4 linked regions of the Homo sapiens genome follow. The protein of the gene in region 4 interacts with the protein of the main gene of each other region in a pairwise test. Each region holds a gene or a part of one and is shown on either strand. Other genes may lie near its edges.

Evidence for each region. The genes of interacting proteins can lie anywhere in the genome.
Region 1: the proteins of GNAI2 (region 4) and NUCB1 interact in a two-hybrid assay, tested with the Homo sapiens proteins (one study listed by BioGRID).
Region 2: the proteins of GNAI2 (region 4) and CXCR5 interact in binary tests that used the Homo sapiens proteins (3 or more experiments, as listed by UniProt).
Region 3: the proteins of GNAI2 (region 4) and RGS20 interact in binary tests that used the Homo sapiens proteins (3 or more experiments, as listed by UniProt).

What each region holds. Positions count from the first base shown.
Region 1 is NC_000019.10:48,917,312-48,920,591, reverse strand, and holds part of NUCB1 (nucleobindin-1 precursor), read right to left. Parts: intron 1,889-3,280; exon of another isoform or gene 1,867-1,888; coding exon 1,808-1,866; exon of another isoform or gene 1,701-1,807; intron 1,563-1,700; coding exon 1,470-1,562; intron 1,399-1,469; coding exon 1,306-1,398; intron 1-1,305. UniProt on the Homo sapiens protein: Major calcium-binding protein of the Golgi which may have a role in calcium homeostasis. Acts as a non-receptor guanine nucleotide exchange factor which binds to and activates alpha subunits of guanine nucleotide-binding proteins (G proteins).
Region 2 is NC_000011.10:118,882,621-118,886,691, reverse strand, and holds the start of CXCR5 (C-X-C chemokine receptor type 5), read right to left. Parts: upstream 2,801-4,071; 5' UTR 2,751-2,800; coding exon 2,700-2,750; intron 566-2,699; exon of another isoform or gene 1-565. UniProt on the Homo sapiens protein: Cytokine receptor that binds to B-lymphocyte chemoattractant (BLC). Involved in B-cell migration into B-cell follicles of spleen and Peyer patches but not into those of mesenteric or peripheral lymph nodes.
Region 3 is NC_000008.11:53,887,372-53,890,871, forward strand, and holds part of RGS20 (regulator of G-protein signaling 20), read left to right. Parts: intron 1-3,500. UniProt on the Homo sapiens protein: Inhibits signal transduction by increasing the GTPase activity of G protein alpha subunits thereby driving them into their inactive GDP-bound form.
Region 4 is NC_000003.12:50,242,704-50,246,203, forward strand, and holds part of GNAI2 (guanine nucleotide-binding protein G(i) subunit alpha-2), read left to right. Parts: intron 1-3,500. UniProt on the Homo sapiens protein: Guanine nucleotide-binding proteins (G proteins) are involved as modulators or transducers in various transmembrane signaling systems.

The sequences.
Region 1 (3,280 bases), on a different chromosome or scaffold from region 4:
AGAATGCACCATTGCACTACAGCCTGGGCAACAAGAGCAAAACTCTGTATTGAAAAATAAACAAACAAATAAATAAATAAATAAAACAGAGACCTAGATTAGCTGGGCATGGTGGTATGTGCCTGTAGTCCCAGTTACTCAGGAGGCTAAGGAAGGAGGATCACCTGAGCCCAGGAATTCAAGGCTGCAGTGAACTATGATTACACCACTGCACTCCAGCCTGGGTGACAGGAGACCCTGTCTCAAAAAATATTAATAAATAAATAAAAGAATGAGCTAGATTAGCTAGGCATGCTGGCATGTGCCTGTAGTCCCAGCTAATAGGGAGGCTCAGGCAGGAGGATCACTTGAGGACAGGAGTTTGAGGCTGCAGTGGGCCATGATAACACCCCTGCACTCCAGCCTGGGTAATCCCAGCACTTTGGGAGGCTGAGAAGGGTGGATAGCTTGAGTCCAGGAGTTTCAGAGCAGCCTGGCCAACATGCAAAACCCTGTCTCTACCAAAAAATACAAAAATTAGCTAGGTGTGGTGCGGTGGTGCATGCCTGTAATCCCACCACTTAGGGAGGCCAGGTCAGGTGGATCGCTTGAGTCCAGCAGTTCTAGAGCAGCCTGGCCGATATGGCAAAACCCCATCTCTACAAAAAATACAAAAATTAGCCAGGCATGGTGGCTCACGCCTGTAATCCCAGCTACTCATGAGGCTGAGATGGGAGGATCGCTTGAATCCAAGAGGCGGAGGTTGCAGTGAGCCGAGATCCCACCACTGGGCTCCAGCCTACGCGACAGAGCAAGACCCTGTTTCAGAAAAAAAAAAAAAAAAAAAAAAATCACACCTCTAATCCCAGCACTTTGGGAGGCCAAGGTGGGTGGATAACCTGAGGTCAGGAGTTTGAGACCAGCCTGGCCAACATGGTGAAATCCTGCCTCTACTAAAAATACAAAAATCAGCTGGGTGTGGTGGCACGCACCTATAATCCCAGCTACTCAAGAGGATGAGCCAGGAGAATTGCTTGAACCTGGGAGGTGGAGGCTGCAGTGAGCCGAGATCGTGCCACTGCACTGCAGCCTGGGCGATGGAGTGAGACTCCGTCTCAGAATAAATAAATAAATAAATAAATAAATAAATAAATAAATAAGAGTCCTAGAGACAGGGGAAAACAGAGACCCAGAGATAGAGATGCAGTGACCCAGGAGAATGGACGGGGACCCAGAGAGAAAGAGAAGGGGCCTAAGATTCTGAAAGAAAGGTCATGGCTAGAAGAGAGAGAGGTTCAGGACCCCGAGTATCCCCCATGTTCTCACCTCCCAGCCCTCCCCGGTGTCCCCAAACTCCTTCCTCTGAGTGGATGCGAGGAACTCCTCCAGGGTCACGAGGCGGTCCTGGTTGGTGTCCACCTGGGGAGCCAGATAAGGGTGAGTGACAGAGCTGGGGGCCCGTCCTCTCCCCCGCCTGGCCCCCACCTCACATTCTTCATCACATGCTCCCGCATGCGCAGTCGCTCCTCCTCCATCTCCCGCATGTCGTCCTCCTCATTCTTTGGGTCGTACACTTTCTCCAGCTGCAGGAGCAAGCGAGAGGCAGACAGCATTGAGAGGTCCCCAGCGAGCTCATTCCCGACAACTTCAACTCCCAGCAGTCCTTTGGGCACGCTACCACTCCTGGGAGCCGTTTTTGCCCCAGGGGCTGATGGGAGTTGTAGTTTTCACTGAGCTCCCATCCAGGGGGATTTAAGGGGACTGCAGGAGGAAACAAGTGGCTGATTTGGGCGTCCCTCCAGGTGCCCGAGGCTTCCAAGATGCTCACCTCCTTGGTGAAGAGTGCCTCCAGCTCCTGCTCATCCAGGACACCATCACTGTTGATATCTGAAGGGAAGAGGATAGCAAGGTATCTCAGGGGACCGAGGACGGGATGTGTAAGGTCCCTGGTGAAGAAATTTTGGGCTGATGTGGGGTCTGTTATCAGAGGACAGGTAACTACGGGTCTCCCGCGGTGGAACGGTGGCCCCCAGGCTTTAGTACCCCACTAGACCCGTTGCTAGGGCCACTGCCTAGCGACCAGGGGGTTGAGAATGGAATAGATCAAAGGGAGGGTTCGAGGAAACATGCTTGGGTCACTGTCATGCAGGATTCTCTGGCCCTGGCATTCAGTGCTCTGGACACAGAGTCAGCTCCAGGGTTATCAGGGACCTCTGCCTCCCAGACAACCAGGCCAGTGCCGACTCCAGTTGTGAGGGGAGCCTCTCCTACCAACGTAGACCCCACAGCTGCAGGGCTTCAGGCTCGGTCAGCCACACTTCCTGTCCTCACCACCGGCCCTCCTTCCTCGGCTCCCTCAGACAAGCACAACCTTCCTCCTGAGGAGGAGGCCAGGAACCCTCATCTTGCAAATCCAGTGGTTAATTTCCACCTGCATCTGACTTGACTTTCTGCCCTTGGCTTCCAGAACATGATTCTGTCCTCTCTGGCTGCCCCTCCACCTCCTTTGACGGCTCCATCCTCTTCCTGACCTCCACATGCTAGTGTGGCCCAGGGCTCAGGCCTGGGGGTCTCTTCTCTGCCTAAACTCTGGATCTGCGCTGTCCAGTACAGTAGCCGCTAGCCACATGGGCTGTTTAAATGTAAATTGATTAAGATTAAAGAAAATGTAGGGGCCAAATTTAGGGGCTCATGCCTGTAATCCCAGTACTTTGGAAGGCTAAGGCAAGATCATTTGAGCACATTAAGTTCGAGACCAGCTTAGAAAAGATGGCTAGACCCCGTCTCTACAAAAAAAAAAAAAAAAGTAAAAAATTGGGCCGGGTGCGGTGGCTCACGCCTGTAATCCCAGCACTTTGGGAGGCCGAGGCAGGAGGATCACCTGAAGTCAGGAGTTCAAGACCAGCCTGGCCAGCATAGTAAAACCCCGTCTCTACAAAAATACAAAAATTAGCCAGGCATAATGCCAAGTGCCTGTAACCCCAGCTACTCAGGAGGCTGAGGCAGGAGAATAGCTTGAACCTGGGAGGCGGGGGTTGCAGTGTGCCAAGATCATGCCATTGCACTCCAGCCTGGGCAACAGAGCAAGACTCTGCCTCAAAAAGAAAAAAAAAATTTAAAAATTGGCTGGGCATGGTGGTGTGCACCTATGATCCCAGCTACTCTAAGGGTTGAGGTGGAAGAATCACTTGAGCCCAGGAGGTCTGGGTTGCAGTGAGCCATGATCACGCCACTGCACTCCAGCCTGGGTGACAAAGGGAAGCCCCATCTCTAAAAATAAAAAAAATGAAAAATAAAAAAA
Region 2 (4,071 bases), on a different chromosome or scaffold from region 4:
GCCCTGGTTCTGTTGGAAGGAGGCTCTCAGATCGAGGGTCGCATAGACAGGGTCTGCTCTAGGTCTGCCAGGATCGGCCTTTCCAGCAGGATGGGTCCCTGGCATACCCACCCCAGGACCTGGAATCTTCTTGTTCCTGGTTCTTAGCCATCTAATTTTTGTTCTATTTGGACCTTTCATTGATGAGAATTAGCAGCCCGTCCCCACCCCCCAGCCCCTGCCTTAAAGAAGTGGACATTTTAAGCGGCTCGAGTTGGTCTTCGAGTTCAAGAGGACAAATGGAATACAGAATGACGAACCTGGCTTATGGCCAGGAGCCCCCAGTTCCTTTTTTTTTTTTTTTTCTGGCAAGTTTGTGTAACCAAAAGGCCCCAGTTCTTAGCTCAACATGAGAGTGTAAAACCCAGCGTTCAAGGAATGTGAACCAATACCTGGTATGGGCAAGGACAAGGAGGAGAATAGGAAGCAGAAGGAATAGAAGGACCCAGACTAACTCCAGAGGAAAATGGTGAGCTAAGACCTTTACTGCATCACAAATCAATAAATACTTATTGAGAAGCTGCTACATGCAAGATTCTCCTGCCTGTACCACTACGCCCGAGGTTTTTGTACTGTGACACTGAGGGACAGTCTGCCAAGCTGCTCACGGCCCTTCAGTGAGTGGGTGGGGGCGGAGGAGAGGGTCTGTGTTCTGAGGGGACATTGGCCCTGGAGACAGGGTGTGTAGGAGATTCGTGAAGGGGGAACGAGGCACTGGTGGCTGGCTGAAGAGCTCCAGAGCCCAGATGGTCCTAGGACTCCTGGGCTCCTGGCTAGACCCTGAGTGAGGGATCCAGATATTGGAATGCCTGGCTGAGGATCACTCATTTGAGGTGTGACATGAAGAAAGTCACTGGGTCCCTTTCCCCCAGATGTAGGTTTTCTTGGGACATGCCCTGCTGCCCCTGCCCCCTGCCCCCACCTGTCCCTAGTAGGTCACTCAGTGAGGTGAGGCGTGCAGTTAGGGGAAACTCTTAAGGTTTCTCAGAAGCTGGGACCCGCCGGGTCTCCAGTTGGTTACTAAGATGTCCAACTGGGTCAGGGCTCGTGGTCAGTTTGAAGCTGCAGGCAGAGGAAGACGCCCAGTAACCTAATCAGGCGAGGCCAGCGGCTGTGACCGGGGGCCAGGGTGGGAGCACATTGCCCCTTTGGGGCCGCGGGTTTTTAGTCTGATTTGGGGTATTGCCCAGACTCTGTGATTAGACTCAGGGCAGCTTCATGGGCTTGCAACTGGGGCAGTCACACGGGGGCCTGCACCCAGCAGGACCCCCCACGAGGTTTAGTGCTCTGCTGTTGCCTTCTTATTTATAATAATTTTTCAACAAGGGGCCCCATGTTTTCATTTTGCATTGGGTCCCACAAATTATGTAGCAGGTCCTGGTTAGATGAATGGTCCGGCTCTGATTCCACCTACGGTTTGGATCCGAGGGGCCAGGCTTTGGGTAGTCAGCCCTTCTGCCCACTTTCTCCCCGTGTCCTACTTACACTTCCCAGCCTTGGGATCTGGGCAAGCGAGAGGCGGGCTTCTCTGAGCAAGTCTGGGAACATGGTTGGTGGAACTACAAAGTCCACTCCACAAAGTCCACTCCAGCCGGGGGAGCAGGAGGGAGTCAGACAATATCTTAGGGTAAGTTTGGGACAGGAGAGTTGGTAGGAGCCAGGGTTTGGCTCCTTCATGATCTAACCCAGAGTGCAGCCCCGAAACAAGTCCTCTCTCCAGGGGGAGAAAAGACAGTGAAGAAGTTTCCAAGAAACCCTTACAACCAGCCTCTGCCGTCGGCTCACAAGGAACCCTGTGTTTCTCTGGTTGAGCTGCTCCACACACACACACATCTTCTGGGAGCCCAGTGACAACCAAGTCAACTGCACCACTACGCTTCACTGGAGAGACTTGAGTGGTGGCAGCGTAGTGCTGGAGACCATTTTCTTAGCCCACCCAAGAAACCTTTCCAAGAATACCTTATCTCTAGAGATTCTACAACAGGTTCCAAGACATTTGTCAGATTAACAGTTTTCTCACCCTGCTCCCTGACTCCAGCCTGCTGGGATCCTCTTCCTTGCTACCATCTGGTCTCACATTCCCTCAGTTTAGCACATAATTGTTGCCTAATAGCTTCCAGTGAGTGATTTTTTTCTCTGGCCAGAGCAGAAGCTATTTGAGGGCAAAGACCAGGTCCTCAACTTCTCCACCCAACACAGAATGTAGTGCCCTGATGACATAATCATATGGCCAGAGACGAACAGCTATGCATTCATTGACTGATTAGCAATGCCAGCCTCCTTACGGTAAGAAAACCTCCAAAGTACTTTCCTGTCTAGTTCCATATTCCGACCCTAAGAGAAAAGGAGAGAAAGAATGGAGAGGTGAAGTATCCTGTTCCCAGTCACATAGCAACTCAGAGGAGGATGCAGGGCCTGAACCCGTGTCTTCCAGCTTCCTCTAAAGGATGTCTCCTAAGGACAGCAGCTCTCCTTATCTGCTTCTTCCACAGAATGGAAAATAAACTCTTAAAGGGCGGGAGCTGACTGACCTGTCTAGATTTTACAGATCCACAGTGGGAGAGGATTCCCACACTGTCCCCTCTCCCTCGGACTCTGGCAAAGGATGTTAGAATTCCAGACAGGGCCTCGGCGACAGGAAGCTACCCGTGTCTACTCACCAGGTCCTCCAGGTTCTCGAGGTCCATTTCCAGCGTTAGCGGGTAGTTCATGGCTGTGCCGGCTGTGAGTCACCAGACTGGTCACTGTCTTATGTTGAGAGGCTCCCCGCCAGGTGCCTCTAGAGAGGTGGCAGCCGTCAGCTGCAAATTTAAGCAAATGAGCTGCGCATCGTCTCCTGAGGCAGTAGGGCCGCGACCTGCCTCACAACTCATCACTTTTTTTTTTTTTTCCACTGGGTCTTTTCTGTTTTTTTGAAGAAAGAGGGAAAATCCCCCACAGCATCAGTGCTAGTCAAGCATTTCAGCTTCTTTCCCGGCAATAATTGTCTCAACTGGGGCCTATGACTAGTTTAAAGGCTGCCCTCACTTCTCCTCCCTATACCCCCAATAAGGGGCTCACAACTTGTAATGAAACCACCACGCAAAGTCAGCAGGTTGATGAGGGAAACTCCTGATCAACAGAGAACAGGAGAAGAGCTCTCCCAGCAACCTCTCCTCCAAGCCACCTCCAAACCTTCATTTTCCTCACCACTAGGGTGATCAACCATTCCAGTCTGCCAAGGACTGAAAAGTCCCTTGACTTGGGAAACCCCTAAGTCCTGGCAAGTTAGGGCACTTGGTCACACTACTTGCCACCATCCTTTTGCCCAACAGAGGCAAAACCCCTTCCCTTCTCAGCTCAAGTTCAGAAAAGATAGGTTAGAATTTTTCAAAGGGAACAACAGTAAAACAATACTGGAAGACAAAAATGAAATCAACTTTGGAAGGCCGAGGCAGGAGGATGGCTTGAGGCCAGGAGTTGGATACCAGCCTGGGCAACATAGCAAGACCATGTCTCTAAAAGAAAAAAAAAAAGTGAAATCACCAAGAAAAGCACATAGTTACAGAGTCATTTTCTGACTCAAAAATAATGATGTTCTATCTATAAATTAACTTTGTTTGCTCATAAATTATTAACCTCATAAACTACCAAGCTAGAGATGGCTTCAGAGATCATCCAGTCTAACCCTCAATTTTTATTCAGGAGGTCCGTGAGGCCGAGAGGGAGAGCAACTTACCCGAGATCCCACAGCTAACCAGTGGCAGAGCTGGGACTTGAACTCAGGTCTTTTGACTCCACCTTTAGTGTTTTCTCTACTCCAGGCTGCCACTCTTGCAGGCACTCATAACCTCTGTCCTTTCCCTCAACTCTGTCCTGTCTGAGGGCCGCTTCCTTTAAGAAGCCGTTTTGTAGATGTTGATCAATTTCCCTTCCAAGTCTCATTTTGTGGCTTTTTCTTCCAGAAGTGGGCATTTCCTCTCTTGATCCACAATGATGTGAGAAAGATGACTGCACGCACAGAGGCACCCACACATGGTGGCTGCTTCTTGG
Region 3 (3,500 bases), on a different chromosome or scaffold from region 4:
ATTCGTTCCTTATCCTGGATATTGGCCTTTACATTTTTCTGTTGTATCCAAGGGTTCAACCTCTAGGGTGATGATCGTCCCTGTAAGGATTTTTGGAAAAATCTGCATTTTGGTGGAGGCTCCACCTGAGGTTGAGGGAAATGAAGAGATGGGTTAGACTGTGGACACAAGAGAGGTGACACAGGAGAGGGTGCTGGCCAGAGAGCAGCCCAAGAGCACACGCCCATAGATTTCTTAATTTGTATAAAAGTCATGTTGATAATTAATGACAGGAAGTCATTATCCAGAGAACTCAGATTAGACTACTGTTAAAAAGTACATGTGGCCAGGCGTGGTGGCTCACGCCTGTAATTCCCACACTTTAGGAGGCCAAGACGGGTGGATCACTTGAGCCCAGGAGTTCCAGACCAGCCTGGGCAACATAGTGAAACCCCGTCTCTTTAAAAAATGCAAAAAATTAGCTGGGTGTGGTGGTGCACACCTGTAGTCCCAGCTACTTGGGAGGCTGAGGCTGGAGAATCACCTGAGCCTGGGGACACTGAGGTTGCAGTGGGCCATGATCTTGCCTCTGCCCTCCAGCCTGGGCAACAGAGTGAGACCCTGACTTAAAAAAAAAAAAGGTATATGTATATTTTTCTCTATTCATCTTTTGATGACTCCAGAAGAATCTTACATGTATGGGGTCTTCCATTATACATTCATTGTGTTTTTACAAATACTTATTTCTAGTGACTACCCAGATATAATTCATATATCTCCTGCCATAAAGAAAGGTATAGATATTTCTTTGCATTTAAGGGGGACTTTACATACAGAGTTTAATTCTTCCTGACCTACTATAATCCCCGCAAATTTCAGTTGTTAGGACTGTTTAATGAATTAGAGTATTTCTAAAACTGAAACAAAGTTTTTCTGTGTTTGTTAGGTTTCAGTGAGGAGCTATTTGGTATTTTTGTGAGGTTTATGACAGCTTTTAACTTCATTTACTTGAGTTATAACTTACAGTAAAGTTTACACATCTTAAGAGTACAGCTTAGTAAACTTTATGTAAGTGTACCCCCACAGAACCACCATTTAGATCAGGGTTTCTCACCTCAGCACTGTGGAAATTTGGGGTTGAACAACTCCTTATTGAGGGGGGCTGTCCATTGCCCTGTAGGATGTTTAGCAGTATCCCTGATCTCCACCCACTGCATGATGCAGTAGCGCCCCTCCCTGGATGCCATGACCAAAAATGTCTCTAGACATTGCCAAGCGTCCTCTGGGGCCAAAATCACTCACCACGGCTCTAGATGAAGATATAGGATATTTTCAGCCCCCCGTGCTCTCCCAAAGATTCCGTCTCGCTTCCTTCCATTCAGGACTCACTCCCACAGGTAACCACTTTTATAACTTTTTTCACCATATACCAATTGTGCCTGCTTTTAAACTTCATATGTAATTAAACAGTGTATAATATTTGCATCTGGTTCTTTAGCTCAGCATTATGTTTTTGAGATTCATTTGTTGTTGTACGTGTTGTTATTTTTTAATGCTGTGCAGCGTTCCTTTGTGTGAATACACCACAGTGTATTCCATTCCACTACTGAAGAAATTTTAGTTGTTTCCAGTGTGGAGCTATTATGAATAATGCTAATATGAACATTCTCATTCATGTCTTTTGATGAACTTATTTCCTTTGGGTATATGCCCAGGATAAAAATTGTTGGGTAATAAGTCCAGTGTATGTTTAGCTTTAGTAGATACTGCAAAACTGTTTCATAGTCCAAATCAGTTTACATCCATCCCCACCAGCAAAGTGTGTATTGCTTCACATCCTCACCAGTACTTAGTATTGTTTGCCCATTTAACTTTAGTCATTCTGGTGGCTGTGTAGTGGTATCTCATTATGGTTTTAATTTGTATTTCCCTGGCTACTAATGATGTTAAGCATCTTCTTATATGTTTTTGGGTCAAGTCATTTGTATATTTTCTATTTAAAATGCCTCTACAAGCCTTTGGCCCATTTTTCTTTTTCTTTCTTTCTTTCTCTCTCTCTCTCTTTTTTTTTTTTTTTTTTTTTTTTTTTTTTTTTTTTTTTGAGACAGGGTCTCACTCTGTTGCCCAGGCTGGAAGGCAGTGGCACAATTAGCCGTGAAGCTGAGACTATAGGTGTCCACCACCACACTCAACTAATTTTTTTATTTTGGATATTGGGAAGGGGTAGAGATGGGGTTTCACCATGTTGCCCAGGCTGGTCTTGAACTTCTGTTTGGCCCATTTTTCTATTGTGCCGCTGATCTTTTATTATTGTTATTATTGATCTGTCACAGTTCTTTATATATTCTGGATACAAGCCATCTGTCAAAATTCTGTGTGTGTGTGTGTGTGTGTGTGTGTGTGTGTGCACGTGCTGCAAATCTCTTCTTCCAGTCTGGCCTGCCTTTACACTCTCATTCCATTATCTTTTGACTTTCCTAGTTTCTGTTGGAAAGTTATGCTTCTTTGAAGGTAGCCTGTTGTTATCCTCATAAAGTTTTTCTCTCATTTTTGACTTACCACAGTGAATATAATGTGCCTATATGTGGTTTTCATTTTATTTATTCTCCTTTGGGTTAACTGAGCTTCTTTTATCTGTGGATTGACGTCTTTCATCAACTTTGGAAAATTTTCACTCAATATCTCTTCAAATATGGCTTTGTCTGGTTTTCTTTCTTTCTCTCCTGCTTCTGGGACCCAAATCACAGATATGTTGGCCTTTTTCCTTCATGTCTCTTATTGTCTGATCTGTTTTGTTCATTTCGCATATCTTTCTGCTTCAATTTGAATATTTTCTGTTGACCTGTGTTTTAGTTAATTAAGCTGTCTTCCTCTGTGCCTGAGTCTTCTGTCAAATCATCTAGTGAGTTATTAATTTCAGAACTTGTTTTCTTCTAAATGTAGTATGCCAATTTGATTCATTTTAATACATTTAAATTATCTGATGAAATTTCCCATCTTTTCATCAGTTTAGTCCATCTAATTCTTATCTACTAAATCCAATGAGATCATCTGTGTGCCTGTATCCATTTTTTTATTCATCACATTTTTATCTCTCTTCACATATCTAGTAATTTTTATTATATGTAGACATTGTATATAAAGAAACTGTGTAGGTTCTGGTAATTTCTTCCACCAGCAAGGATTGAATCTCCCTTGGAGGGATTTCCTGTCTAAGGATGAAGGACTGAAGGGCTGATCACTTCAGGCCAGCAGGTATTAGAATGGGTCAGATCTGGTAACAGTTTTGGGGGTTTTTTTGTTTTGACATGGAATCTCCCTCTGTCACCCCTAGAATGGAGTACATTGGCACCATTATAACCTAGAATTCCTGGGCTCAAGCAGTCCTCCCACTTCAACCTCCTGAGTAGCTGGGATTACAGGCACTTGCCAATTCACCTGACCATTTTTTACAAATGTTTTGTAGAGATGGGGTCTCGCTATGTTACCCAGACTGGTGGCTGCAGTTTTAATAAGATTTA
Region 4 (3,500 bases):
GCTGGTTCTTCTGTGCCGGCCTCTGTGCACATTTACAAGGCTTGAAAGGCAGCACCACACCAGTCTGAGCAAAGGCCTAAAGGTGGGGTCATCTCAGCCTTGTTGGGGAGAAGATATCCTTATGGCTTGGAGGAATCTGGGGGCTCCAAGGCTGCTGACAGCCTCAGGATATGCAAAGGAGGTGATGGCAGCACCTACTGTGTGTGCCCCCGGCGGGAGGAGGAGGTAATGAAGTCTGCACGACATGGCAGGGCAGGGCTGGGCCTCTCGGGGAAGTGGTGTCCACACCAGAGGAAAAGGAGGAAGCAGCTGGGGGAGGAGGAGCCCAAAAGAGGAAGAGGCCAGAGGGCTGCCTGGTGCTAGGGTGGGGGTGAGAGCCCAAGGGCCCCCCAGGGCTTTGCCAACTGGAAGGGTCTAGGAGGTGAACACCTGCCCAGGCTTATCTTTGCACTCCTGTGGGCCATTCTAGTGGCGGTCACTGAGTTGGAGCCAGTCCAGGTAGCTCTGTACCTTGTCCCACCCCAGCAACCATCGGGCCCAAGATCCCAGAGAAGGTGGTGCCTTCGAGAAGGATTCCAGGCCCCTTCTTTGGCCACAGGAAGTTGTGGCTGGGAGAAGGACGCTGGCGGGAGGGCTAGCAGGAAGGCAGAGGGCTGCTCTTAGATTCCCGAGCGGCCATTGCTCTCCAAAGCCGGAAGGCCAGCCACAGGCTGAGATGAATGCCTGGAAATGCAGCAACAGCCCCGAGATGAGCTCACTCTGGGTTTCCCCTGCTGGGGGGCGGACAAAGGATCCCTGGCCTCAGCCTAAGGATTCTCCCCTACCAGCACCCACTCACTGGGTCTAGGGCTGCATTCACTGGGCCTGTTTCCCCTCAGGTGATAACCACAGCTGTCTCTGATTGAGCCTTGACTGTTGTGTGGAGCTGAATTCTTCATTATCTTGTCATATTTAATCCTGTGAGGCTGGGACTGATATTACACCCATTTCACTGATGGACAAACTGAAGCTCAGGGACTTTATGCACTTAAACAGGGAACAGAGATGTCAGGACATGACCCATGTAGTGATTAAGCGCCTGCCTCCAACTGCCATGGCCCTTTGGGAGTCTGTGCTGGCTGGAAGTAACGGATCAGGCAGGACAGCAGGCAGACGGTGTGGGTGCGTGTGTGTTCTGCCTGTGCCTATGGGCCCTGGCTTTCGGGCCTCAATTCTTCTTTTAGGAGGCGGAAAGGGAGCTGTCTGTCCTGGAAGGTGGGACCCAAGACTCTGTGTATGAAGCTTTCTACAGCCATGTGGTCATGGGGGACCCCCTCCACTCCTTTTTTTTTTTTTTTTTTTTTGAGATGGAGTCTCACTCTGTCACCCAGGCTGGAGTGCAGTGGCATGATCTCGGCTCACTGCAACCTCCGCCTCCTGGGTTCAAGCGATTCTCCTGCCTCAGCCTCCTGAGTAGCTGTGACTACAGGTACGTGCCACCACGCCCAACTAATTTTTGTATTTTTAATAGAGACGGGGTTTCACCATGTTGGTCAGGCTGGTCTCGAACTCCTGACCTCAAGTGATTCGCCTGCCTCGGCCTCCCAGAGTGCTGGGATTACAGGTGTGAGCCACTGCGCCCGGCTGCAGCTGCACCTTTTGACTTCCCACTTTTTCTCCTAGTCCGTATCCTCTCACAGTGATGCTCAAGTTATAGCTGGCAATTTAGGACTTCATTCTTTCCCTAATATTATGCTTGTTCTCCCATAAGCCCCAGTCTTAGACTGAGACCAAGCCTGGGGAAGGCTCAGAAGCTATTGAAGTCCATGGTGAGGGCCTCTGAGACTGGGAATTGTCCAGAGGAGTGAAATGAAAGCATGTTCCTTAGGGCTGCACTGTGAGCACAGGCTCAGTGCTGGGTGCACGTACGGTACTGTGTGGTGGTAGAATGTGGCCATGGTGTTGGCTGATGACTGCATGATAGTTGTTGAGGCTGGTTCCTCTTGCTCCTTGGCCTCCGAATCTCAGTGCTGTGGCCTAGTGGGGCCTTGCCCTCTCTTGTAGGGGTTCCTAGGGGTTCTGCTGTGTTGCCAGGCCAGGCCGTAAGGGACTGAGGGGGCTGAGGAAGGCTTAGGAGAGCCAGAGCAGAAGCGTCCAAGCCTCTCTGGGCCATGAAGCCATGCACAGAGCAGAGACCCGTGCATCCTCATGGCCACCCAAGACTGTGGGTCCCAGAGGGTCCAGTTCCTCACCATGAGACCTCAGACTGTCCTCTTCCCTCTCTGTATCCAGCACTAGAATCTGTGATGCTGTGATTTTTTTTTTTTTTTTCTGAGACTGAGTTTCGCTCTTGTTGCCCAGGCTAGAGTGCAGTGATGCAATCTCGGCTCACCACAACCTCCGCCTCCCAGGTTTAAGTGATTCTCCTGCCTCAGCCTCCAGAGTAGCTGGGATTACAGGCATGTGCCACCATGCCCGGCTAATTTTGTATTTTTAGTAGAGACAGGGTTTCTCCATGTTGGTCAGGCTGGTCTCGAACTCCTGACCTCAGGTGATCCGCCCACCTCAGCCTCCCAAAGTGCTGGGAATACAGGCGTGAGCCACCCCGCCCCGCCAGTGCCGTGATTCTTAGCATGGTCTCCTGGCCTGTGGACACAAGGACAGCTGCTGGCTTGGGTTGGGCCCTGAGGCAGTTTGGGGTGACTTTGAAGAGGCTACTCAGGGCAGGCCTTGGGTTTGGCACCCTCCCTCAAGGGGTACATTTCATAGATGAGGCCTAGGCTCCCGTTATCTTTCCCAGAGTCCACCGCCATGAATCAGAAGGGAAAAGAGGTCATTCAGGTGCCTTGGGAACAGCGGAGGGATGCCTGAAATGAAGAGGCCTCCAGGGAGACGGTGCCAAATGGCCCAGCTCCGCGTGATCCGCGTCTTGTCCAGCACCTCCTGGCTCCTGCACAGGCGGTACCTGGGGCCTGAGGCGCCAGCGATGAACAGGTCTGGGGCCTCCTTTATATCAGGCCAGCCTTCCTCACCCGGTGCCTGAGTTTCCCTCTGTGCAGTGGAAAGGGCCCCACTGAGGGAGACACACCTTGCCCCAGAAAGACTTTCCCATGTGTGGGCAGGACCTGAGGCCTCAGTTTCCCTAACACAGAGATCTCTGACTTGGCAGTAGGAAGCCAGGCCCTGCTTGGTAGTGCTCCCCTTTGGGCACTGTGAACCCCTGGAAGCCGCTGGAGGCAGCCGAGTGCCAGAGACTGGCGGGAGGGAGGTGTGGAGTCTGTTGGTCTGTTCAGGCATCCGTTATAGGGCCATGCCACACACATGGGTGGGAGTGTTGCCGGTCCCTTTCAAGACCTCGAGTCCCTGCCTCCCAGTGCCGGACCCGTGCTGAGCCTTCTCGGAGGGAATGAGGGGGGCCGGGGAGCAGCACCTGGAGGAAGGAAGAGACGCCAGGGGCGGGGCTCAGAGGGCCTTTGTCTGGCGGGGTCTCTGCCCCTCCCTCCCGTTGCCATGGTTTCTGT